Homo sapiens: one gene and its partners. The protein of the gene in region 1 interacts with the protein of each later gene in a pairwise test. Each region holds a gene or a part of one and is shown in the gene's direction. Other genes may lie near its edges.

Region 1 (7,011 bases):
TTTCCCGAGTATACTTGACAGCATGTTAGTAGATGTTAAGATAGAAAGATTTTGTTGTTAAATTTGGGAAGCTGTGATTAAATTAAGGCAAAGACATTATTTTCTATAGGACTTCTTTGGGCTTTTAATATACTAAACAACTTTACTAAAATCCCAGGAAAGAGCTATAGATTTTTCATTTCCCAAATTTATGTAATCACAGAACCTTTTAATCAGGGCCATCTTGGGAGATAGAATTCTGCCCTGCATAAGCCCTGGGAGAGATCCAAGTACCAGATAAAGAATGAGGGGTGAGCTGGTGTGTATTTTAATCAAGTGTAGAGATAAGACCAGAATCAGAACAAATTGTGGTTGCTAACAGCTAAGACCTTAGTAACATAAGGACTTAGTTGTACTTAGATGTTTGCTTCTTTATCAAGCTTTCACTATAAATCTTGCTCTATATGGTAATTATTTTTACTGTTCATTGGTTAAAATTGCTTCACTAGTGACAAGCTTTTATTTCAACAAGAAAAGAATGCTAATTCCTAGTCCAGGGGCAGCATACCCAGAACGTTAATTATTCTTTTTTTATTTTTGAGAACAAATTGGTGATTATCTTGAAAATGGGATCTGCGAACCTCCATGGAGAAAGAGGCAGCAGCCATGGCTCCCTCATCCTCAGCAGATGGTGGTGGAGAGGGATGACTGCTCACTTTGGCCAAGGATAATGACTACTGTCTCATGATGCATTCCTCCACTCATAATTATGTTACAGGCAATCTGAAGTCTTCTCACTGCAGTTGACTACCAGAGAGCAATTTGGTTAGAGGGAATAACTCCTTGGTTTTAGTGCCCCCAATTTTATAGGTGGGGAAATAAAAATCCAGGGTGCTCAGCCATCTGGCAAGCTTTACACAGAATGTTCTGGCAGTGAGGGATTGGAACTCAGATTGCTGGCAGTAGGCAGACCCTTTAGATACTGTTCTGAAAGATCCTACAGTGAATGAGGGCAATGTTGGTGAGGATAGCAACTCTGGGTATTTCCAGCAGCTCCATTCAACTGCTGAGAAGACAATCCCCATCTGCTAAATAAGGTGATGCTTTGGCAGGCTCATGCGACATGGATTAGGCGACCCAGCCCAAACCCGCGCTTTTGTGATCTGTGCATCACCTTTCTCCACCACGCTTCTCCAGCCTAGGCCAGGGTGGCAGAGGTGAGCCACACATCAGAGGCTGCCACCCACCACCTCAGTACTGCAGCCAAGGGAGGGAAGGGAATCAGAGACATTTATGTCTGTTCTTGTTTGCTTCGGACTCTCACCTGGAGCTTCAGCTGAGCCTGGCTCAGCTTTCTTTCCAGGAAGAGCATGTGATCTTCTGCTTTTAAAGGATCCAGAGGATATGAGGAAAGACCTTACCAGGAGGGGCTGTCATTCAATTGATGGGTGGAGTATAAATGTCTCATGGAAGAACTCAACATGAAATCCTCTTCCTGGATTATCTGTGGATGAATGATGTTAATTTAAAAATCCAAACATATATTGCTGAATACTATGTATTTAAATTTCAAAACAATCCTGCAAGTAGGATCAATGCCACCTTTTAAAAATAAGGAGAGAGAGAAGTCAAGTACCTTGTCCAAGGTCACCACATAGTGAGAGGTAGACATAGGATTTGAACCCAGGTCTTTGGAATTCCATGATGATGACAGGTTTTCTGTTATACCACAGCTATCTTACTCCTGTGTGGAATTTTGTGATTTTCAAAGGACTTTCACTTACATTATCCTGCAAGTCTCACCACAAACCAGTAAGGTAGGAAAGTGTTTGGCAGATTAGAACACAGACTTACGTTAAATCGTGGCACAAGGTCACCCAACCCAACCCTAGTCAGTATAAGTCTCAGTCTTTTCTATCCCAAGTTGGGTTTCTAATTCTTCACTCCTATTCAGCCTCCTTTCCTCACCTTTGGTGAGCTTCTTAGGGATGCAAAGTTGTCTTGAGAACAGCCAGGGCCAAACATGTTATTGCTTCTCCATTCCCCCAAATAGAGTACTGGCAAGTAGCTAAACATATAGTGCTTGCTATGTGTCAAGCACTGGGCTAAGCATTTTATATTTACTTAACTTGTTTAATGCTCACAACAACCCCATAAAGTACTTGCCATTCTTAGCCCCATTTTACAATTGATAAAGCAGACACATAAAAGTTAAGTAACTTGTCCAAGGCCTAAAAGTTGGTGGATAGTGGATCTGGGATCTGACGCCAGATAAGCTGCAGAGCAGAGAGCTGAGAATTAGCTGCAAAGCTCTTGAAGTCACTCAACTCAAGGTGGTTCCAAGGTTCTCAGACCAATTCTCTCCCCTAGACTGGACTGTTCAGAAACCAGAAACTCAGAAAGACAGAGCGCCCACTGCCAGTTTGGCTGGAATTCTGGAGATAGACCCCCCACCAATTTCTCAGGGAGTCTAGAATCAGTGCCACCTGCTCCTGTCATATGTGTGAAATCTCCTATGCAGACGACAACCTGAGGATTTGGTCTTGCCCTGTGTGGTGTGTTTGGGTGCGGAGGTGGGTTGGATGGGGTTTGGGGTCTGCTGAGCTCTTGGCAGTGACAGCAGTAACTCATCATGTGTCATTCGTTCTGCCATCAGGGGTCCTCCATCCTCCTATTCCTGGCCCATATGGTGTAGCCATGGTCTAGACCAGGGTTTCCCAGACTTTCCGCATTATAAGAATGACCTGGAGGGCTTGTTAAAAATGCAAACTCTCAACCCTTTCCTCTGAAGATTTTCATTCATAGGGCTGGGGTGGGAGCTGGTTTTAGGTATTTGCATTCTTAGACATCAGTCATCAGTCAGTTAACACGTTTGTGCTGTGCTTACCCTATGCTAGGAGCTGGACATTTAGGATAATTTAGAATGGGCAGGACTCAAGCCTTGCCCTCAAGAAGCTCAGGGACCGGAGGGGTATGGACAAGTAAGCAGGTAAGTATACTTTATGTCAGGTTCACGATGGGAAAAGTACAGGGTATGGTGGGAAGACAAGGAGGGGCATCTGACCCAGACCAGGGGGTAAAGCAGGGAGGGGATCCCCTCCAGAAGATCTGAGTTGGGGCCTAGACACAAGATACACTGTCCTCCTAAGATGAATGGGGTGCTTGAGCCGACTCTACCAGCCAGCTGGAGGGTTACCAGATTCTGTCTCCTCTTGCTTCTGGGTCCAGAAATTGCCTGCTGTCAGTCTAGGATGGTGGGGGGAGGGCTTGGTCTGAGGCTCTCCACAGTGCATGCCCCCTCTTCTTCCCAAACCTCATACTTGTTTGCTCCCTGTTCCAGGAGCTAGACGTGTTTACCTCCACTGTAATTTCTTCCCCATAAGTAGCATTTCTCAGCCCAAACTCCAGGTTTGCTGAGATGGATGCCTTTGGCTGAGGTGCTGGCAGAGCAGACTCTATGGGTCTGGGCCCCTCTCACTTCCGCTCCCACTCCAGGCCCTCTGAAGAGTTGGGAACAGGTGACATGCCACTGGAAGAAAAGGCCTAATGATGGCAGAGACGGGCGCAGCCACTGTGGGAGCCTGTGGACACTGTGGTGCTGCAGGGAGGGACCCAGCCCACTCAGAAGAGGTTGCCTGGTCCTCACCCCCCTGTGTCAGGGAGCTCATGGCTCCGGATCACCTGGTGTCTAAAGCTGCTTCCTCCTGCTGGATCAGGTGCTGCTTGGGTTCCCTGAAACCCTTGAGGACAGCACAAAAAGGGAGGGAGGAGAGCTCCAGCATTTTGTCAACTGAGGCAAGTTTAGGTGATTAAGCTAAGAAAGCAAAGCCACTCTGGCCCAGAGGATTATCTCTGAGGTGTGTTGGGAACCAAGAAGTAACTTAATGCCTACGAGGCAAACCAAACCCAAGATGATTCTCAACTAATTGCTCGCCTCTCCTTTTGCCAAGCCAAACTCCCTGTTATATAAAGGCCAGTCTCCTCTCTTGTCCCTATCCCTCTCAGCTCTTGCTAAGTGATCACTAGCTTGCCTCCAAGCTCTCTCACTATGAACAGACAAGTTTGCAAGAAATCCTTCAGTGGCAGGAGCCAGGGTTTCTCTGGCCGCTCTGCTGTGGTCTCCGGCAGCAGCAGGATGAGCTGTGTGGCCCGCTCTGGGGGAGCTGGTGGAGGGGCCTGTGGCTTCAGGAGCGGAGCAGGCAGCTTTGGCAGTCGCAGCCTCTACAACCTGGGCAGCAACAAGAGCATCTCCATCAGCGTGGCAGCTGGCAGCTCCCGGGCTGGAGGCTTTGGGGGAGGGCGGAGCAGCTGTGGCTTTGCAGGTGGCTATGGAGGTGGCTTTGGGGGCAGCTATGGTGGTGGCTTTGGTGGTGGCAGAGGAGTAGGTAGTGGTTTTGGAGGGGCTGGTGGCTTTGGTGGAGCTGGTGGCTTTGGTGGTCCTGGTGTATTTGGTGGGCCTGGCAGCTTTGGTGGTCCTGGTGGCTTTGGCCCTGGGGGCTTTCCTGGGGGAATTCAGGAAGTGATTGTAAACCAGAGTCTCCTGCAGCCCCTCAATGTGGAGATCGACCCCCAGATTGGGCAAGTAAAGGCCCAGGAGCGGGAACAGATCAAGACCCTCAACAACAAGTTTGCCTCCTTCATCGACAAGGTGAGGGCAAGGCCAAGAGGTGCTGTGGAGGGTTTGGGGTGCCCAGGGGTCGGTGTAGAAAGATGCCATGGGGACTTGTGAGACACAGGGCAGGGGCGCTTGGCTCTTGTCCTGGTGCTGTCTTGGTCCCTACAGGACAGTGATCATGCCCCTTTCACTTTTTGGGCCTTCTTTTTCCAGCTGTGAAATGGGGGGAAGAATTCCTGGTCCTGGTTTCCTGCTAAGAATGAGATGAGGGTAAATGAAGTGGGGGTCCAAACATGCTCTTAGCTTTTTGAAGAATGAGCCATTTTAGTCATGAAATTATTGCAGTTACTTTAATTTCTCCTGAAAAGCAATTGCTTGATAATCCAAAGTAGCTGGTAATCAAAACCTTGTGTTAGCACAGATCTTGAGGCTGCATCTAAATGAGGTGCATTGGCAGCTGCCTTACCTTCCAGATGATGCTGTGCTTCAGCCAATAATTAAACTGAGCTGTCCATGCTGGGGCAGAGGAGGGTGTTCTGGGTCTGTGTGGGACTGAGCCCAGGATCTGAAGTGAATTCTAGTTCAGCTGCAAGCTGAATAACTGAAAGGAGGTCTTCCTATGTGAAACTTCTAAAGAAATGTTAGACCTCATTGACTGTATTCACTGCCTTTATGGAGCTGAAAAAAGCTTACATCTAAAAAACAATGACAAACTTTATTTGTGCTTACCTCCTTCAGTGGTATTCTGAAGGATCCCTATAGACCCAGGACAGTCCTGGGTTTGATTCTTAGCTTTGTCACTCAGTAGACTTGTCACTTTGGGAAACTTAAACTCTTTGAGTCTCAGTTTCCTTATCTACAAAATGGGGATCACAGCAACTCCTTTATAGGTGGTTGTGAGGATTAAATGTGACGGAAATACATGAAAATAACAGGTAAGGCATAATCACTCAACAAATTCTAGCTCTCCCTTTGCTAAATCTTCATCCTTCCCAAATTAAAAAACAGGGGAAATTGTAGATTGAAGAACTGGGTTCCTTCTCCACAGTTCTACATTTGGGATGGGCAGCCCCACATGCCCAACTCAAGGGGCTGACTCCTTTTCTCCCCTCTTTCATGCAGGTGCGGTTCCTGGAACAGCAGAACAAGGTCCTGGAGACCAAGTGGGAACTGCTCCAGCAGCAGACCACAGGCTCAGGGCCCAGCAGCCTGGAGCCTTGTTTTGAATCCTACATCAGCTTCCTATGCAAGCAGCTAGATTCACTTCTAGGGGAGAGGGGGAACCTGGAGGGAGAGCTGAAAAGCATGCAGGACCTGGTGGAAGACTTCAAAAAGAAGTGAGGGCTCCTCCTGGGAAGTTTCCCCTTCTGGGGAATTAGCAGGGAGGTGTGGTCCTAATTTGGGATTTCAACTGTTCCCAACTGTGCCTTCAGTCAATACTCTGGGATGGATTTATTGAGTGAAACATGACAAAGCAGAAGGGGGTGAAAGGGTGGGGACTGAGACTCCCATGTGGCTATGACACAGATTTCAGGCTCCAGATGGGCCCCCTCCTATTCCAGCCCAGAGGGACAAAAGAGTCCTCCCAGAGTTTAGAATCCTTTAGGATGGGGAGTCCGCCACACTTGACTGGACACAGGAATCACCTTGGATGCTTGTCAACAATGCGTATTCCTGTATTCCAGTCTTAGGTATTCTGAATCATAGGTGTGGACAGGCCCCAGGAGTGTGAGTGTTCCCCTAGCTCCTGGGGATTCTAGGCAGAGGTCCAGGGCTGCACTTGGTAAAGGCCTTTATCAGTGTGTCCCGTCCAATCTCCTGTTCTGCAGCTTTGGTTTGCCTCCTCCTCCACGTTCCAAGTTGCAGTCCATATCCGCTGAGGTCTGCAAGGAGCAAACTGGGCCTCTCAAGGTGGGAGGGAGCTCCCGACTTCCCCAGGGATCAGAACCCACAGGGACGGGCACACCTGCTCTGCAGAGGCCCTATTCCAATTCAACCACACAAACGTGGTGGGCACCCACTCTGTGGCAGGCTCTGTGCTGGGCTCTGGGAATTCAGTGGCAACTCAGATTCATATTCCCAAAAGAGATCCCAGAGACCTCTTTTCTCCTAGAGGAAAAAAAGAGGTCCTGCCTAGAGACCTCTTTTCTCCTAGAATCAGTCCAATTCCTCAAGCTTTATGAAATACAAACTCTTGGTAGTAGATTTTAGTCCTTAACAGGCAGGAATCCCACAACTTTGATGCATTCAGAAGGTATGAATTCTTTCTTAACTGAAATTCCTATAAGAAGTAACTGTAATGAAGGAAAACAGAAACTGAGGAAATAGGCAGAAATGCCCAATGAGAGCACACATTTCACTGGGTTCCATATGCACACATTGTGCTTTGCAAAGTCAATCAAAGAGCCTAGGCAAGT
Region 2 (7,141 bases), on another chromosome or scaffold:
CACACCATCCTTGCAATATGGTCATCTGGTGGTCAAAAGATAGCTACCCTGCCTCTAGGCAGAAAGAAGGGGGAAAGACAAAGGGCAAAATATGTGTGCCAATTGGGTCTATCACCTTCTATCCAGAAAATAATAATTTTCCCAGAATCCCTCCCATCTACTTAACATTTATTGACCAGAATGATATTGTAAGTGACCCAGGGACATTTCACTTCTTTTTTCTTTCTTAGATGAATAAATCCTTGCCCCAATCCAAATTGAGGCTCTGTTAGTAAGGAAGGAAGGGCAGGGAAATTGGGCAGGTAGCAGCATCTGCTACAGTATTTTAGTGAAACCTTGTTACTAATGTCTTACATTGCAAACATTAACTAGTTCGTCATATACTGTGAAGTTAAATAGAACTAAATTAATTTGCATTTCTCTAATGCTGAGTGATGTTGAGCATTTTTTTCATGCTTTTTGGCGATTTGTATGTCTTCTTTTGAAAAATATCTATTCATGGCCTTTGCCCACTTTATAATGGGGTTATTTGTTGTTGTCGAGTTGTTTGAGTTCCTCGTAGATCCTGAATATTAGTCCTTTGTCAGATGCATAGTTTGTACATATTTTCTCCCATTCTGCAGGCTGTCTTTTCACTCTGTTGATTATTCATTTTGATGTGTAGAAGCTTTTTAGTTTATTTAAATCCAATTTGTCTATTTCTGTTGCATTTACTTTTAAGTCATGAATTCTTTGCGTAGGCCAATGCCCAGCCCCCTAGGTTTTTTTCTGTTATTTTTATAGTTTCAGGTCTTACATTTAAGTCTTTAATCAATCTTGAGTTGTTAATTTTTGTATATGGTGAGACATTGGGATGGGTTTCATTCTTCTGCATATGGTAATCCAATTTTCCCAGCACCATTTATTGAATAGGATGTCATTTCTCCAGTGTATGTTTCTGTTGACTTTGTCAAAGATCACCTGACTGCAGGTATGTGGCTTTGTGTCTGGATTTTCTATTCTGACAATGAGATACAATCTTACACCAGTTAGAATATCTTTAAAAAGTAAAAACATAACAGATATTGGTGAGGATGCAGAGAAAAGATGGTATAAAGCTTGTTCTTAGCAATAGGGGAAGTGATTGTGGCAGTCAGAAATTTTATTGGAAAGCCGTGGAAGAGAATCCAGGAGGGGCAGAAAATAAGTTGTTCTCCTTGTCATGACCCAAGAAGAGTTTTCCATTCCCCCCAATTCCCCAACTCAACTAAGTTGGAAAGAATCAAGCCAATATACTTTTAGTACGACAGGTACATAAACTAACAACATATGTTATATTCAAGTGACAATTTTTTTCTCAACTAAAAATCATGTGGATGAGCTATTTTTTTAAGTGTGCATTTTAGAACAGTACTTCTGTATGTGGAGGGATCCAGGTGCACAGGCTTCTGCAAAGACATAGTGTCCAATCCTCAGTCTTGCATTCTCCCCTCCCTCCTCCCAGGAAAGCAGGGCTGGTGCTCAGGGAGATGGGTTGAGAGTGATGCTGCCAAGTGCCTGCCAGCTGCAGTATATTCAGCCTACAGAGTGAGCAGTGAAGGAAGTGGGGGAGGGAGGTGACCAGTAGAGATGAGAGAAGGAAAGAAAAACTGAGGTTGATATTCAATATAAAGAGGCAAGGCAGAGAAGGGGAATGAGCCATCTATGTGGGGGCTCATAGGAGAAAACAGACCAGGAGAAGAAATATCAAGGGTAGAACCAGAGAAATTTTGTGAAGAGAGGGGGGTGGTTGCAGCAGCTTTTTAATTTTAATTTAATTTAATTTAATTATATTTTATTTTTTGAGACAGAGTCTCGCTCTGTCCCCCAAGCTGGGGTGCGGTGGCATGATCTTGGCTCATTGCCATGTCCACCTCCCGGGTTCTCAAGCGATTCTCCTGTCTCAGCCTCCCGAGTAGCTGGGACTACAGGTGTGTGCCACCATGCCTGGCTAATTGTTGTATTTTTAGTAGAGACGGGTTTCACCATGTTGACCAGGCTGGTCTCGAACTCCTGACATCGGGTGATCTGCCCACCTCTGCCTCCCAAAATGCTGGGATTACGGGTGTGAGCCACTGCACCAGCTGCAGCAGCTTTTTATAAAATAAAATGAGGAGTGTTGTTCAAGGCACAAATAAATAGTAATGAGGAACTCTAGAAGAGTTTTAGACTGGAATATAAGCTTTGTGGAACATTTACCCACATTTAGACTGCTCAAACTAACCAAAACATCAGGTTTCTTGCCTTCAACTAGACTACTAGCCACCTGGCATGATGATTATTGGTTAACTCAAGGGAAATAACTTATTACTTAACAAATGTTATTGGTAGTAAAGATATGGAATCAACCTAAGTGTCCATCAACAGATGATTGGATAAAGAAAATGTATACACACATACACACAATGGAGTTTTATTGAGCCATAAAAAATAATGAAATCATGTCTTGTGGCAACATGGATGGAACTGGAGGCTACTATCTTAAGTGAAATAACTCAGAAAGTAAAATACCACATGTTCTCACTTATAAGTGGGAGCTCAATAATATGTACCCAGGGACATAGAGAGTGGAACAGTAGACATTGAAGACTTGGGAGGGTGAGAGGGGAGCGAGGGATAAGAAATCACTTAATGGGTACAATGTCCACTATTCAGGTGTTAGCTACCCTAAAAGCCCAGGCTTCACCACTACACGCAATATATCCATGTAACAAAATGACACTTGTACCCCCTAAATCTATAAAAATAAAAAAAGTTATTGGTTAAATAAACTATAAAGCCTGAAGTCCTCAAGGAGAAAAAAAAAATAAAAGGGGTTATTGGTGAATCAATATCAGGAACCACTGCTTTTCCCTTTATTTTTGAAAATAACTTTAGGAAATACTTGACTGTCTCAAAAACTATAACTAGAAGTATTCATGGGACATTCTTTTCTAGCTTTGTATGACTCGGCTATTGGATACTAAAAATCCATCCCTGGACACTATTAAGATGCAAGTCTACTTCGATATGAATTATACGAATCGAGGTAATGTATACTACCTATTTTTATACTTAAAAAATTTCATACTGTGTTTCAGCTAAGAAGGGCTTCATTTGGTTGACAATGAATTTAATTGTTTAATCAATTTAACAATTTAATTTTTGGCAATCAACTTTGAGGAATACAACGTTAGAAATGCTAAATGAAAAAAAACCATTGGCCTTTGTGAGTGTTAAAAGTGAATTCCAATTATTGTGCTCATAATTATTGTTTCCAGTGGCACTAATACATAATAATTAGGAATTCAGCCCATTGAAGTTAAAAGTTTTTAATTTATAGATTTTCTTGTTCCTGGTTTATGTTATTATCTCATTATAATTACCTAAATTATGTAACTATTCAAAAATGAACGATGGGGAGTTTAAGTTTAGAAAACGTTTCAATATGTAAATTTTTTTTGAGACAGAGTCTTGCTCTGTCACCCAGGCAGGAGTGCAGTGGCACGATCCACAGATCACTGCAACCTCTGACTCCCATGTTGAAGCAATTCTCCCACCTCAGCCACCCGAGTAGCTGGGACTATAGGTGTGTGCCACCATGCCCAGCTAATTTTTGTATTCTTAGTAGAGACGGGATTTCACCATGTTGCCCAGGCTGGTGTCGAAATCCAGGCCTCAAGCGATCTGTCTACGCCTTAGACTCCCAAAGTGCTGGGATTATCAGTGTGAGCCACCATGCCTGGCTCATTATGTAAATAATTTAATGCATACATCAAAGACAAGTTGGAAACAAAAGAAAAAGGAAAATGTAATTCTCTATGGACTGCCTCTGCACCTGCTATATAAAACAAGTCTATTTCTCTATGGACTACCTCTACCTCTACTGTATAGTACAATCATTATTAACAATTTGGTGATGTTTCTCTTTGTTAGTTTCAGTTATGCTACCTATGTAAAAGTATATATCTTGCGTTTTTGCTTAATAGTGAAATTTTAAAGCAAGAAATAGTCATATAATTGATAAAATTTAACCTATAGATTTTTAAATTTGTTATTTAAACATATTTTTAATTTGCAAAAAGTTCTCAGTTGGTTTTGTGGCAAGGGTATAGGTATAAACTGTGCGTGGTGGATATGTTAATTATTGACCTTGTAATAGTAATATGGGTTGTCTTATAGAGTCATTGCAGAATTGTACTTGCAACAACTCAGGGAACATAGTGTCCTGCCAAAGTGAAGCCTGTCCCTCAGCATATCACAGGAGGAATGAGGAGGGATACAGTTCTCGATGCAACATCGTATTATCAATAATGCTTTTCAGAGGAAATTTATCTAGAACTGAAATAAAAATACACGTAACCGAAAGGAACATATATACTACATATATATTTCTGCTACTATATATGCTTATGTATAGTATACTACATGTGCTTACATATAGCATAAATATATAATATGTATATATTTATTTTTTCATATAGTATTAAAATTAAAATATATAATATATATTTTGTAGAAATGGTCTTCTTTATTTTCTGCTTAATTGGGAGGTTTTAGCCTTTTCTGATATCTCCTGTTTAGTTTGGCTGTTTAAAGTCTTAGGTGTTTTGACAAAGTATTCCATTTAAGTCACTGTAATAAATCTTCCCTCCTGGATTTTTGTCTTGAGGCTACATGCTGGCCACTGTTTTTTATTTCATTATTACAGCTTAAGAAATTACTTGTTTTCCTGAAGTAGAATTGCCATATCCAATCCAGTTTTTCTCTAGTTCTTACGTAAGAAGAATTCTAAAAATTAAATATATAGAACATTGTTATTTGGCAATTTTAGTGGAATTTCTCGAAGAACATCACCGGGTCCTAGAGTCTAGATTAGGCTCTGTTACCCGAGAAATTACAGATAACAGAGCATGTGCTAAAGAAGAATTGGAAAGCCTCTACCGGAAGATTATCAGCTATGTGTTACTCCGCTCTGGCCTTGGATCCCCTACAGACATCAAGACTGTCAGAGAGGTAACAGGTAAAAAGTATAACCAATTTCCATTTCATAAGTGAAAATATATGGTCATTGTATTTTATAAAACATGTTAAATTAGAAGTGTTAAAGATTGAAGTTCCCTTTTTATCTGAAAAAAAAAAAAAAATCAGCACAAATGAGTTAAAATGTACCCAGTCTCCTTTTACACTGTGTATCCATTCTAAAACTCAAGTAGCACCTCTAGAAAGTGAAATATTGCTAATTTTCCTAGAGCTGTACATATCTAGGCACCTATTACACCCCATTAGAGAAACATTGATAGTAGGATTGAGGGTACCAGGCTGATTGAGTAAATGGAAAAGCTGAAAACGGATATTTCATATTGATGAAAGAAATTGAGTCTGTCATTTAAAATGGGTGATGGAATGGGGCACCATTTTATCCTTAGGAAGTCTTTGCCCTCTTTCATCCTTTAAAATGAGGAATAGGAAAAATGTCTAGCTCTCCTATGGCTTTCTTCCATAATTATTTTAAAGCATCCATTTTTTGGCTCAGATCCCTAATTAGAAAGCTTGTTTTCATGCCCATTGCCAAAAAGTTACTGCTGGATGCTTAATTATTAAAAATGGACATGAGGCAATGGCATAACTCTCAGTAATCCAGCTTTGATGCGTGATAAGTTTTATTATGTATCCTATAATCAGGTATCAGTAATTTAAAGAATCATATAAGTAACTCAGACCCTTAACTTGCTGCTAAAGAAAAACGTTATTTAACGTCTGATATCTTTATTCTATCATTTTGTTTTCCTTTTTTTTTTTTCTGGTTTATTTTAGCTGCTCTACAGAGTGTTTTTCCTCAGGCAGAGCTTGGGACATTTCTAACTCTTTCTAAGAAGGACAAAGAACGCCAGCTGAAAGAACTCACCATGATTGTTACTGGAATTCGTTTATTTAACAGAGACTGTGGAAAAGGAGGAGAAGGCATTGATGATTGTAGGTATATCATTAGATTAATTCTAAAGGTTATGTATGTTTAAAATTTAACTTGCACAGTGAGGAAAATAATAAACAACACACCACTGGCATTCTTAAATTTAAGATTTGCATTTTTTACTGTTTCCTTAAGAATAACTACTGTTTATAATGTGTAGTGATTTTTACTTTTGCTGGGGCAAGACTTTACATTTTATGTACCATGAAGCTAGTAGGAGAAAGTGAATCAGTGAAAGCAATGAAGGGTCCTGCTCAAAGCTAACCTCCCAGTTCAGCAGGGCTTTGTGTTCATTACTGCAAGTCCGTAACCAAAAGGGAGTACAATTTAGTTATTTAAAAAATAAAAATCTTCCTGAAAACAGTTCCTGGTGCAGTTAATGGAATGAAAAGATCCACGAGGAGATATTTCAAATCTCTAAATTCGGGGGCATTTACTTTGTGGTTATATACTTAATGCATTCTTTATAAGTTTGAAAGTACTTATGAAATATTTAATGAAGTACCTACCAGTAGAAGTAACTTCCTTATGAAATTTGGTACTCCTGTAGGCCCACTGATAAGGTGTTAGTGTCTTTCACCAAATCACTAATCTAGTATAAAAGGGTAATTTTTTCTATTTTAAAAACTGTTCTAAAAAGTCAAATTTCCATTTTCATAAATGACCCTCCCTTGCTAGACTATTCTGTCATTTTTCACCATCCAGATGAGTTTCTTAACAAACGTTCCTTTTTTTTTTTTTTTTAATAACTAGAAAAGAAGATATACAAAAGGAAGGGTCAGTGGCTTTTCTGGAAGCACATGGTTAACAACACATAATACCAAACTCTGCCTATTCTCTGAACTCTTCTATATTTAGTGGCAAAAGCTGACCTACTGTAACTGGGTTATCATTCTGTTAATATCTTTTGTTTGAACTTGTTTTAGATTCTTTTTTTTTTTTTTTTTGAGATGGAGTTTCGTTCTTGTCGCCCAGATTGGAGTGCAGTGGCGCGATCTCGGCTTACTGCAACCTCCGCCTCCCGGGTTCAAGTGATTCTCCTGTGCTGGGATTACAGGCATGCGCCACCACGCTCAGCTAATTTTTGTGTTTTTAGTAGAGACGGGGTTTCACCATGTTGGCCAGGATGGTCTCAATCTCTTGACCTCGTGATCCGCCCGCCTCGGCCTC
Region 3 (3,044 bases), on another chromosome or scaffold:
GGTGTGGGGTATATGGGACCTTTCTGTAATATTCTTAGAACTATTTGTACACCCAAAGAATTTGTGAACATAGTTTAAAACCATCACATGGCTATTTCAAGAGAATGGACCTTATTTCAATGGGAAAAAAGGTCTCTTGATGTCCACCCATCCCTATCTCCATGTTGCAATGATAACTACTATTTCTTAGGTATATAATAATCTATTGAAATCCTTCTGGAAGTTTTCTATGTGTATGTAAGTATATATACTTTTACTGTAGCAGGAATTTCATATTAAATGACTCTGAGACTTAGTTTCTTTGCTTTACTTAACAATATAAATAATATAATATGGAAATATATTCAGTTATTTAAGAGTTACTTATTAGTGCCTTGAACACATATATCATAATTTATCTCATCTTTAATAATTTATAGTACTGTAAAGGCACCTTGAAAACCTATAAAGTTCTGTACATGTGTAAGTTAATATAGCATAATAAAGTGTGTTAGTTTTTCTTGAATGAAATATGGGCTAAGAAGTGGTAGAAACAAAGTTAGATTAGCTCAAAAGATGAATATTTTAACCTAGTAAATTTTTCTGTTAAGAGGAAATTTTAATAAGCCCAGGATACTCCTATATAATGTTTTCTGCTCTTTTGGTCCTTTCACCCAGGACTTTCTTTTATCTTTGATTTGACCCTCTGAAGAGACCTTTATTGAGGGAATGTCTTATTCTCAGAAAATAAATTTTAGGAAGAAGTATAGGTAGTATTTGTGATTTGATTGAAAAGAGGGCCAATTAAGATTAATAGGTAATAGATTATATTTATTAATTTAACCAGAATTTACTTTTGAATGTGCCAAATACTGTACTAAGTAATTACAGAGAAACAAGAAAATTTAATGAATATAACTTTTTGTTGTCTCAGTTGCATTTAGGTTCAGCTACAAGAACAGAAAAAGCAATTTATAATGATTTAATCAAATGTGGGTTTAGTTTTCTTATGTAACAAGAAAGTTCAAAGGTTGGCAGTTTGGGGCTAGTATGGTGGCTCCACCTTGTTCTCAGAAATTCAGGCCATCTCACTTTTTCCTCAGCCATATTTAATCTTCAGCTTTCTCTCTCATGCTTGGTGGGCTCTTAGTGATAGGATAGCTAGTTCATCTTCTTCATTACATGTACCTCTCAGTAATGGCAAAAGGCTAGAGGTGCTTGATAGGTGAGTCTTCCCACTCTCAAAAGTCCCTTTCAAAGGCTTTATTCAATTATATATATATAATTATATAAGGTTATATATATTGTGTATAATTAAATAATCTTGGAAGATATTTAGTTATCTCCTTAGATTCTTCTTGGTGGTGACAGTTTCTCAGACTTCCCTTGTTTTGTTTTGTTTTTATTTTTGTTTTTTCTCACCTCAATATCTATAACATTAATAATATATATATATATATATATATTCTAACTAGATACCCCCAGTTAGAATAAGGGCTAAGAAAGCTAGACACATCACACCCTATACAAAATCAGGCCTCTGGCTCAAATGGGAGAAAGAATGAATATTGAGTTGATAACTAGCAGTGGTTTAAACTTAGAGAAGTCAGAGGGAGAGTTGGGGAAAACTTCCAGGTTAAAGTATCATAGGAGCTGAGTCGTGAATGATGATAGACAACGTGAGAAAAATAAAGGTAGTCTGGGATGAAAGAATTGACAAGCAAAGGCACCGAGGCATGACAGTATTTTTACCTGGCAAAATATATCTGTGATATTTACTAGAATTTGATTTTTTTCTTTGCAGGGATATGAACGCTCATTTATTCACAAGATCAAACACAAACATATCCTGGCTAAGAACTATTTTTCTCAGGTTCCAGTGCTGGCTTCATTTATACTTGATGATGGTGAAATTGATGAGATCAGATGGAAGTATCACTCAGACACAACACCTAAGATTATAGAATCCCAGAGGCCTCCTCATTAGGTGATCCAGGAGTATTTGTTTGATGATCGGCATTTTGTTCACTGCTAATAGGGTAATACAGAGGTCACAGAGTATGGAAATGGAATTTAATCTGTTTATTGATTTTGTTTTTTGTTTTTCATAGTATTTTGAGTTATATAAAGAGAAAACATTTCTATATAAGTAAGTATTCTTTGTTAGGAAGTTGGTGCTAAATTGAAATGCAATTTTGTTACTGAAATTAATATTTTGGGGTAAAGAAAACATTTTAAAATGTGTTTTCACATTAAATTTTTTAAATTTTTTCAAGTATATTAGAGTTAAAATCTAACAAACAGCCAAATAAAAACTAGACAACTTTCAAGTTATTTATTTTAGATAGAATGTAGTTATAGGAAGCTAATCAGTATGTGGAGGGGAGGAAACATTATAAAGTGCTCTTTCTTGAAAACTTCTTTAAGTAGGATAAAAAAATTTATATTTTAGTATAGGCATTTGAATCTTTGCAGTTTATCGTCTGCTTTCACCTTCCATCCTTCTCATAATCCCAATAAAACAACACTTGAAACTATTTATAAATAAACAAAAAACCTTCATTCTGGGTAAACAATGGAGCTATTAGCATATGCAAGAAAAACTCCCTGTGGGCAATGGTGAAACTATAAGAAGAATAAACTGGTTAAATAAACCATAACAACGCCCTTCTCCAATAAACCAAAGGAGTGACCTTGACCACATATAAGTTAGGGACCTACAGTGATGAACAATGGTTTGCCAGTCAGTCTTAACAGGAAATGGATGGCACACTCGAAATAGCTTAAGCCAAGGAGAGTTTATTTACAAAGGGCCTTATTATAAGGTGTGGGTAGTGTGTAGGGAAACTAAAAGAATAGTGCAGGAACCCAGGGCTAGTATCAGACAGGCTATCTCTCCCTTTAGTCTCAAATGAACTTGGGGAGAAAGTCTGAGAACCCAGGAAGAGTGTAAAGAAGATAACTGAAAGGATCAATGACCAGCTGTAAAGGGAACGGCCAGGCATAGGGGAATCTCATGAACTAGAGAAATATACAATTTCATACTTCTTCCTTTCTCCAATGTC
Region 4 (7,354 bases), on another chromosome or scaffold:
AAAATACAAAAAATTAGCCGGGCATGGTGGCAGGTGCCTGTAGTACCAGCAGCTCTGGGAGGCCGAGGCAGGCGGATCACGAGGTCAGGAGATTGAGACCATCCTGGCTAACACAGTGAAACCCCGTCTCTACTAAAAATACAAAAAATTAGCCGGGCATGGTGGCGGGCGCCTGTAGTCCCAGCAGCTCTGGAGGCTGAGGCAGAAGAGTGGTGTGAACCCGGGAGGCGGAGCTTGCAGTGAGCCGAGATCGTGCCACTACACTCCAGCCTGGGCGACAGAGCAAGACTCCGTCTAAAAGAAAAAAAAAGAAAAGAAGGTGAACCTGTCCTTGCCTTCAAGAAACAAGTACCTCCACAATCTAGTGGGAGATACTAAAAAACAAGTAAGGCAATAATTAAAATACAGTGTCCTAAATGCTGTGATAGGTGTTAAGTACAGTAGAGCGCCATCTAATGCTCTAATTAGTGGATGTGACATTGAAGCTGAGACATAAAAGGGATAAAGAAAAGAATTCTAACAATGTGCAACAGCTTAGTGGAAAAGGAGATAGGACCCATGCAAATAATTTAATTCTACTGGCTGGTTATTAGGAATACAAGAATGGGGAGTTAATAAGAAGGCAAGAGAAGTAGATGTTAGATTATAAAGAACCTTAAATCCAAGTGAAATGCTTGAACTTTATTGCCCAGGATGGAGTGCAGTGGTGTGATCACGGCTCACTGCAGCCCCGACCTCCTGGGCTCAAGCAATCCTCCCCCTTTAGCCAGCATGTGCCACCACGCCTGGCTATTTTTTTTTTTTTTTTTTTTTTGTAGAGATGAATCTCACTTTGTTGTCCAGGCTGGTCTCAAACTCCTGGGCTCAAGCAGTCCTCCTGCCTTGGCCTCCTAAAGCACTCGGATTACAGGCATGAAGGCTTTGGATTTATACTTCAGGGACACCGCCTAGAGATTTTAAGCATGGAGAATGTACAATACTTGGCAATAGGTTGAATTAGGGTGAGAGAAAGAGAAGTCAAGCATCATGTCCTTTATGATATAATGATTACAAGCTCAAACCAGAGTGCCCTCATTCAAATCCCAACTCTATCCTTTATCAGTTGAATGACCTAAGGCAGATTACTTTTCTATGTCTCAGATTTGTTATCTAATATGTGGATAATGACAGGACTCATCTCATATTATCAGGCTGAGTCTGATGAGCTAATACATATAAAGTGGTTAGAAGAGTGCCTGGCACTGAAGAAAGTACACAATATGTGCTAACTATTTTATTAATATTATGCCCTGATTTCTGGCCTGGCAAAGAGGTGAAATTTCCTAGGACAGATTTTATAGGAAGAGGAAGTATGGGGTTAAGATAATTGGTTCATTTTGACTGTTGAACTAGCGGCCAACGGCACAGAGCTCAATGGATGGTAACTGAGGCCACAGGAAGGTGGTTCAGTGAGAAGATTTAAGGGCCTGCGACATAAGACTGAAGAGCAGCAACATTTAACGGACATACAGAAGAAGGAGGGAGAGCTCCCAAAGGAAGCTGAGGATAGAAGAAAAGGCAGAAAAATTTTAAATATGCTATTATGGAAGCTTCAAGGAGACAAGATGGTCAACAGTGCCAAATGCCAAAGATTGAGCAAATAAGATGAGGGTTGAAAAGGATCTATTAAACAGTATCAAGAAGGTTATCAGTGATCTTGGTAAGAACCAGATGTACTGAGTAAATAGGAGGCCCAAGGTGGATACAATGAGGGTATTCTAGTTGTGAAGTGGAAAAGCTAGGGCAGTAGGTAGAAAGGAATGTGGAGTTAGGAGAGGACTTAAGATGCAATAGATCTGAGCATGTTTAGATGCTGGTAGGGGAGTCAAGAGAGGGCAACACTGGAGAAGGGAGGTCCTTGAGAAAGTGATGGTACTGGGATCCAGAGTTCAGGTAGGGGCAGCCTTAAAGGAGAAAGTAACAAATAGGAGTGGTGGTCACTAATAAGCTGGATGGTGTCTGTGGATATGGAAATTGTCAAAGATCTTGTGAAATATCTTTTCCCAAGATTAAGGCTCTTACTCTTGTCTGCATGTGCAGAGTGTGGCAGGATGGCAAAGTAGTTAAGGACTTAAATTTTTAATCCTGGCTCTGCCACTTACTAATGACTTTAGGGAAGTGGTTTAACCTCTAGCTGCTTCAGTGGCCTCAGACGTCATAAAATGGTTGAGAGAATTAAATGTGTTAATATGCATAAGCCATTCATGTTTGGCAAATATGAAATGTTAACTGTTATGACAGGGTTCTCCCTTTCCCATCTCTATTCTGTGCTTACTGTTCCTATCATATACCATGTATTCCCTCAAGTGAACAAAGATTCCTAACCAAGACACATCAAAGTGGCATTTACCTTGATAAATTAACTATAGTCCAAGATATTGACTTTGGTCAAAAATGTGATCTTGTTAGGGTTCCAGAATTGATCCAATTCATGTATTGAGCCAATGCATGTATTTTAATAGTGCTAAAAATATCTCTCTTCATCCAGGTATTGTATATACAGTGTGAATAAAACACAACAAAGGTATTAATTCAACAAAGTTTTCATCAATTACATGACAGACATTGTTCTTAGCACTTGGGAATCATCAGTGAGTCAAATGAATAAAGGTGATAAGGAGGGCTATTAAAAAAAGTAGATGGCCGGGCGAGGTGGTTCACACCTGTAATCCCAGCACTTTGGGAGGCCAAGGTGGACAGATCACCTGAGGTCAGGAGTTTGAGACCAGCCTGGCCAACATGGTGAAACCCCGTCTCTACCAAAAATACAAAAATTACCTGGGCGTGGTGGCAGGCGCCTGTAATCTCAGCTACTCGGGAGGCTGAGGCAGGAGAATCGCTTGAACCCGGGAGGTGGAGGTTTCAGTGGGCCGAGATGGGCTGGGCAACAGAGCGAGATTCAGTCTATTAAAAAAAAATGTAGAGCTGATAAAGGGAGGATTGTAACTGTGTATGTGAGAAAACTTACATTGCAATTTTAAATAGGGTTGTTAGGCTAAGCCTCATTAAAAAGGCATCATGTGAGAAAAGATGCAAGAAGCTGTTCTAAGCACCTGAACACGTAAACCAATAAACAGACCTCAGTGAGGATGTGACATTTCAGTTGAACCCCGAAAGATAAGAAAAAATCACACAGAGTGAGAAAAAGTGAAAACAAAGGGATGTCCAAAAATCCCTGACTGCCAGCTTATTGATTTACAAAGAGAACTATAGACCATCTATCAGATATTCAGATGAGCCTGTGCAATTATTCACTGTAGGTCTGGTGACAAGCCAACTCTTAAGTTTGCTTGGTGAATACATAATCAGAAAAGGACTGAGTTACATGATATGAACGTCTGACGGAATGGGCTCTGGGGAAGACACTTCCTTAACTCAGGAGAGCCCCTGCTCTTAAGCCGGGATACCCTCTCTCCCCTAGAGAAGGCGTGGATTCATCTGGCACAGGTGTGCCCCTCTTTTTTTATTCTATGCTCCAGTAGCGGATCAGACCCCGACTGAGTAATGCACGGTATTTCAGGATATTTCACAGTCGTTGGGATAGTGTCAAGCCTTTGAAGTTCTGGTTAAATTTTGTTCCTTCAAAATCACTTTGAATCTTTCTACTCTCACCCTTTAATGACTAATTTTTTGAAGTTTTTCCTCGGAAGACTTCCTTACCTTCCATGTTCTTGGGACACTTCGCTACCTCTGCACTGCCAAACACGGCTCCCCATCACTGAACTGAAAGCGAAAACAGCACAATCCCATCTATCTTTCTAGGCAGGCGCAGCTTCTTCATAAGACCTCGCCAAGACCCTATTATTTTGTCCCCTCTCTAATGATATACAACTTACTCAGAATCTCATTACGGTCGTGTGCATGTTTTACTTCGCCCTTTTGGCTCCCAGGGGGCGTGCACACAGCTAGCGTCCAACATGTTTTACGATATTTACCCTCCCTCCTGTGTTCGGGATCAACCGTTCCTAACAGTGAAATTAGGTCGTCCCAAGTGCTGAGGAGAAAGTGTGCACACAAGAGGCTTCAACACCGGCGGAGGCGACCCGCAAGTCCTGACCCACCGCCAGAAACACCGCGCGCGCCCAAGACCCCACGGCCGCCCACGCGCTACGGCCCGCAACATCCCGGTTTGAAGCGTTTCCGCTTCACCCACCTGCGGCTTCCGGTCGTACCCACGGCCTCGTGAGGGCTCGAGCTGGAAAAGTGCGTCATACGACCCCGAGCAACCGGCAGGCCTTGCGCGCGATGCTGCCCCGCCCCCTGAGGGCCGGCCCCCTGAAGCGCAAGAGAAGGAGGGGCGCGCAGGGATCGCGCCTAGTCTCTCCGCCTGCGGAGCCGTGGGGTCCCGGCAGCCCGCAGGAGTGCTAAGTAAGGGTCCTTCAGGGCGGGAACCAGGTTCCAGGCAGGGACGCAGGCTACGTTCGAATAAAAGTACCGAAGGTCATAAGGCCCCAGTTCAGATGGGACTTCCCCGCGTGACAGCACAGAGATAACGGCCAGCCCTGGGCGAAGGTAGGAGAGCGGGCGTGCCAGGTTGGAGGGGTCATTTCGTGGAGCGAGTTTAGGGGGAGCCCCCAGAAGCCCAGAGCAGTCAGGTCACACGACGGGCAGGAAGGAGTACCAGCAAATACTTTTTATTGAGCATACAGGTATTACGCTGGGTCTTTACATATCTCCTCCAAATAAGTGAGTCCAAATGGCAGGTAACTCGAAAGGTGAGAAATTCAAGTCAGCTTTGAAAGACACATTGCATTTAAAGGAAAAACGGTATTCGCAGATGATAATACAGGATGGAGTGGATCAGAAAACACACTGAGGCTACTGATCATTCCCATTTGCCAACTCACTGCAGTTGGCAAGAAAACTCTGTGACTCCATGAGATGGGAAATTACACCAGCAGTCAAGGTAGCAAGGTAATAGTTTCGGCTAAGTTTTGCTGCATAACAAACTGCCTCAAATAGTGGTTTATATCTCTAACGTGGGCAAGGTGGGTGATTCTTCTGCTAGTTTCTCCTGGGCATATTCATGTGGCTTCATTCAGCACAGGTTGGCTACGCTGGGCGGTCCAAGATAGCCTTATTCATGCTCTGGCAGGTGCTGCCTGGCTGCTAGGGCATCTCAATTCAGGCCTAATCTTGGAAGCAGCGCCTCAGCCATATTCTATTGGCCAAAACAACAACAAAGCCAGCCCAGAGTTAAGGCGTGGGGTAATGGACTTCACCTCTTGATGAAAGAAGCCCAAAGAATTTGTGGTCACCTTTTTCAACCTTGCACAGAAATTAATCTCTCCTTCAGTTAAAATAGAAACCACTAAGACTTGCCTCTTGGAGTAAGAATCATTCAGTGTTCAGTTTGCTGATGCTGATACGGTAAATGACCAGGGCTTCATATAAAGCTACAATGAAGACATAATGACACCTCCTTTCTTTATTATCACACCTTTTACCAAGGTCACTCTGAGTAAGTCTATCTTGTATTATGCAGGTGGGAATGAATTTTGTTCAGAGTTAACTGCACTAGGAATTTTCCTAGTTATTATTAAAAACAGTCACAGAATATTGTTGCTCTTTGCTTATATTACTTCCTTCTAAATTCCCTTTCTCTGAAATCTGAGATGGTACAACTTTGGTTTTTTTTCCTAGTTTCTTGATGAAGAGGTTTTAAAGAATCCCATTCCCTCCTCCCTGCTCCAGGACTTCTGTCCCTTGGTTATTCTTACCTTTACCTACTTCTTCAGCTTCTCCACTGGAACCTTTCAAGTGACACTCAAACATGCTGTACTCTTTAACAATCCTCCAGTGACCTCATTTCTCTTTCCACTTGTCATCCTGTCTGCTACCCTTCTGAGCCAAGCTTCTTGGAAAAACTGCTATACATCCAGTATCTACTTTCTCACTTCCCATTCATTGTTTCAACGTACTCCAAAATGGCTTTTCCCCATTATTCCAGCAAAAGTGCTTTTGCTAAGGTCACGGGTGACATTCATATTGCTAGATCCACTGGACTTTTCAGTATTCATCTAAGTGTTCATTTGACTACCTCAACCTGGAGATTCCTGTGGACAACTTTGACATTACCCTGTCAACTCCTCAGTCCCTTTTGCCAGGTTTTCCTCCAGCCTCACTGCCAACTCCGCAGTCCCCTTTGCCAGCTACCCTGATCTAGTCAGCCCTAAATGTTGGAGTTCCTCAGATCTTTATCTCACACTACATTTTCCTTAAGCAATTTCATTCATTCTATGGCTCTAAGTACCATTTCTGTATACAACTTCAAAATTTATATTTTTTAGTTCCATAGATACAACTGCCTTGTAAACCTGGTAAGTCTAAAAGCCATGCTCCTGAACTCACTCTTTCCCCCCAGGGATCCTGCATGCATAAAGGCTAAAGCCTTTTTTGCCAGAAGCCCTTTCTTCTTCCTCACTTTCCGCTTCCAAACCATGACTACATCCTGTCAGACTTCACCTGGACTCTATCCCCTTCTCTCCACTTTTATGACCATCACCATCATTCACTTAGACAACCATGTCACTGCAAAAGCTATAAATGTCCTCAGAGGCTGCTCTATGGAGTAGCCATTCTGTTTCTTTACTTTCTTAATCAACTTGCTTTCAAAAATGTCCTGAGATACGCTTTCCCATTTCCCACGTTAAAATCAAGTTTATGGCCCAGTGGGAGGATCACCTGAGGCCAGGAGTTTGAGACCAGTCTGGGTAACATTGTAAGACTCTGTCTCTAAAAAAATACAAAAACATGCTGGGTATGGTGGCACATGCCTGTAATCCTAGCTACTAGGAGGCTGAGGCAGGAAGATCGCTTAAGAACAGGAATTCGACACTGCACTGAGCTATGATCGCTCCACTGCACTCCAGCCTGGGCAACAGAGTGAGACCATCTTAAAAAAAATCAGTTTTATGTGGTATGTCTTGTGTTGTGTTATGTCCCTCTGAATGCTATACGTTTCTTCATGGCATATCACAATTTGCATCTTATATAATTACTGTATAATCTCCTGTCTTTCCTAGTAGACAGGCACAAAACTCTACAAGGCACTGGCTATTTTATTCACTACTGTATCTCCAGCACCAAGCACAGTGCCAGGCTAGGTGAACAAATGAATGATTTATGTATTTTTTTTCTCTTCTAAAGAATTACGTTCTGTAAATAATAAAAAGCATTGTCTTTTTGGCTTATGTCCCATTCAACAATTGTTTTTCACTCTCAATATTCCCTACAAACACATTTGTTTAGTATTTTTCTGATTAATAAAATATAGCTTCCCCCCGGAAAAGATGCCCTTTCCTCTTTTAAAATG

The links.
Region 2: the proteins of KRT76 (region 1) and CFAP206 interact in binary tests that used the Homo sapiens proteins (3 or more experiments, as listed by UniProt).
Region 3: the proteins of KRT76 (region 1) and IQUB interact in binary tests that used the Homo sapiens proteins (3 or more experiments, as listed by UniProt).
Region 4: the proteins of KRT76 (region 1) and TSGA10 interact in binary tests that used the Homo sapiens proteins (3 or more experiments, as listed by UniProt).

The regions. Positions count from the first base shown.
Region 1 is NC_000012.12:52,774,308-52,781,318, reverse strand, and holds the start of KRT76 (keratin, type II cytoskeletal 2 oral), read left to right. Parts: upstream 1-3,973; 5' UTR 3,974-4,027; coding exon 4,028-4,627; intron 4,628-5,716; coding exon 5,717-5,931; intron 5,932-7,011. UniProt on the Homo sapiens protein: Probably contributes to terminal cornification.
Region 2 is NC_000006.12:87,410,855-87,417,995, forward strand, and holds part of CFAP206 (cilia- and flagella-associated protein 206), read left to right. Parts: intron 1-2,955; coding exon 2,956-3,046; intron 3,047-4,831; coding exon 4,832-5,020; intron 5,021-5,814; coding exon 5,815-5,973; intron 5,974-7,141. UniProt on the Homo sapiens protein: Essential for sperm motility and is involved in the regulation of the beating frequency of motile cilia on the epithelial cells of the respiratory tract. Required for the establishment of radial spokes in sperm flagella.
Region 3 is NC_000007.14:123,451,665-123,454,708, reverse strand, and holds the end of IQUB (IQ motif and ubiquitin-like domain-containing protein), read left to right. Parts: exon of another isoform or gene 1-1,777; intron 1,778-1,783; coding exon 1,784-1,966; 3' UTR 1,967-2,516; downstream 2,517-3,044. UniProt on the Homo sapiens protein: Adapter protein that anchors the radial spoke 1 (RS1) complex to the A microtubule of outer doublet microtubules in axonemes. The triple radial spokes (RS1, RS2 and RS3) are required to modulate beating of the sperm flagellum.
Region 4 is NC_000002.12:99,151,890-99,159,243, reverse strand, and holds the start of TSGA10 (testis-specific gene 10 protein), read left to right. Parts: upstream 1-4,301; 5' UTR 4,302-4,551; exon of another isoform or gene 4,552-4,920; coding exon of another isoform or gene 4,921-4,953; intron 4,954-7,354. UniProt on the Homo sapiens protein: Plays a role in spermatogenesis. When overexpressed, prevents nuclear localization of HIF1A.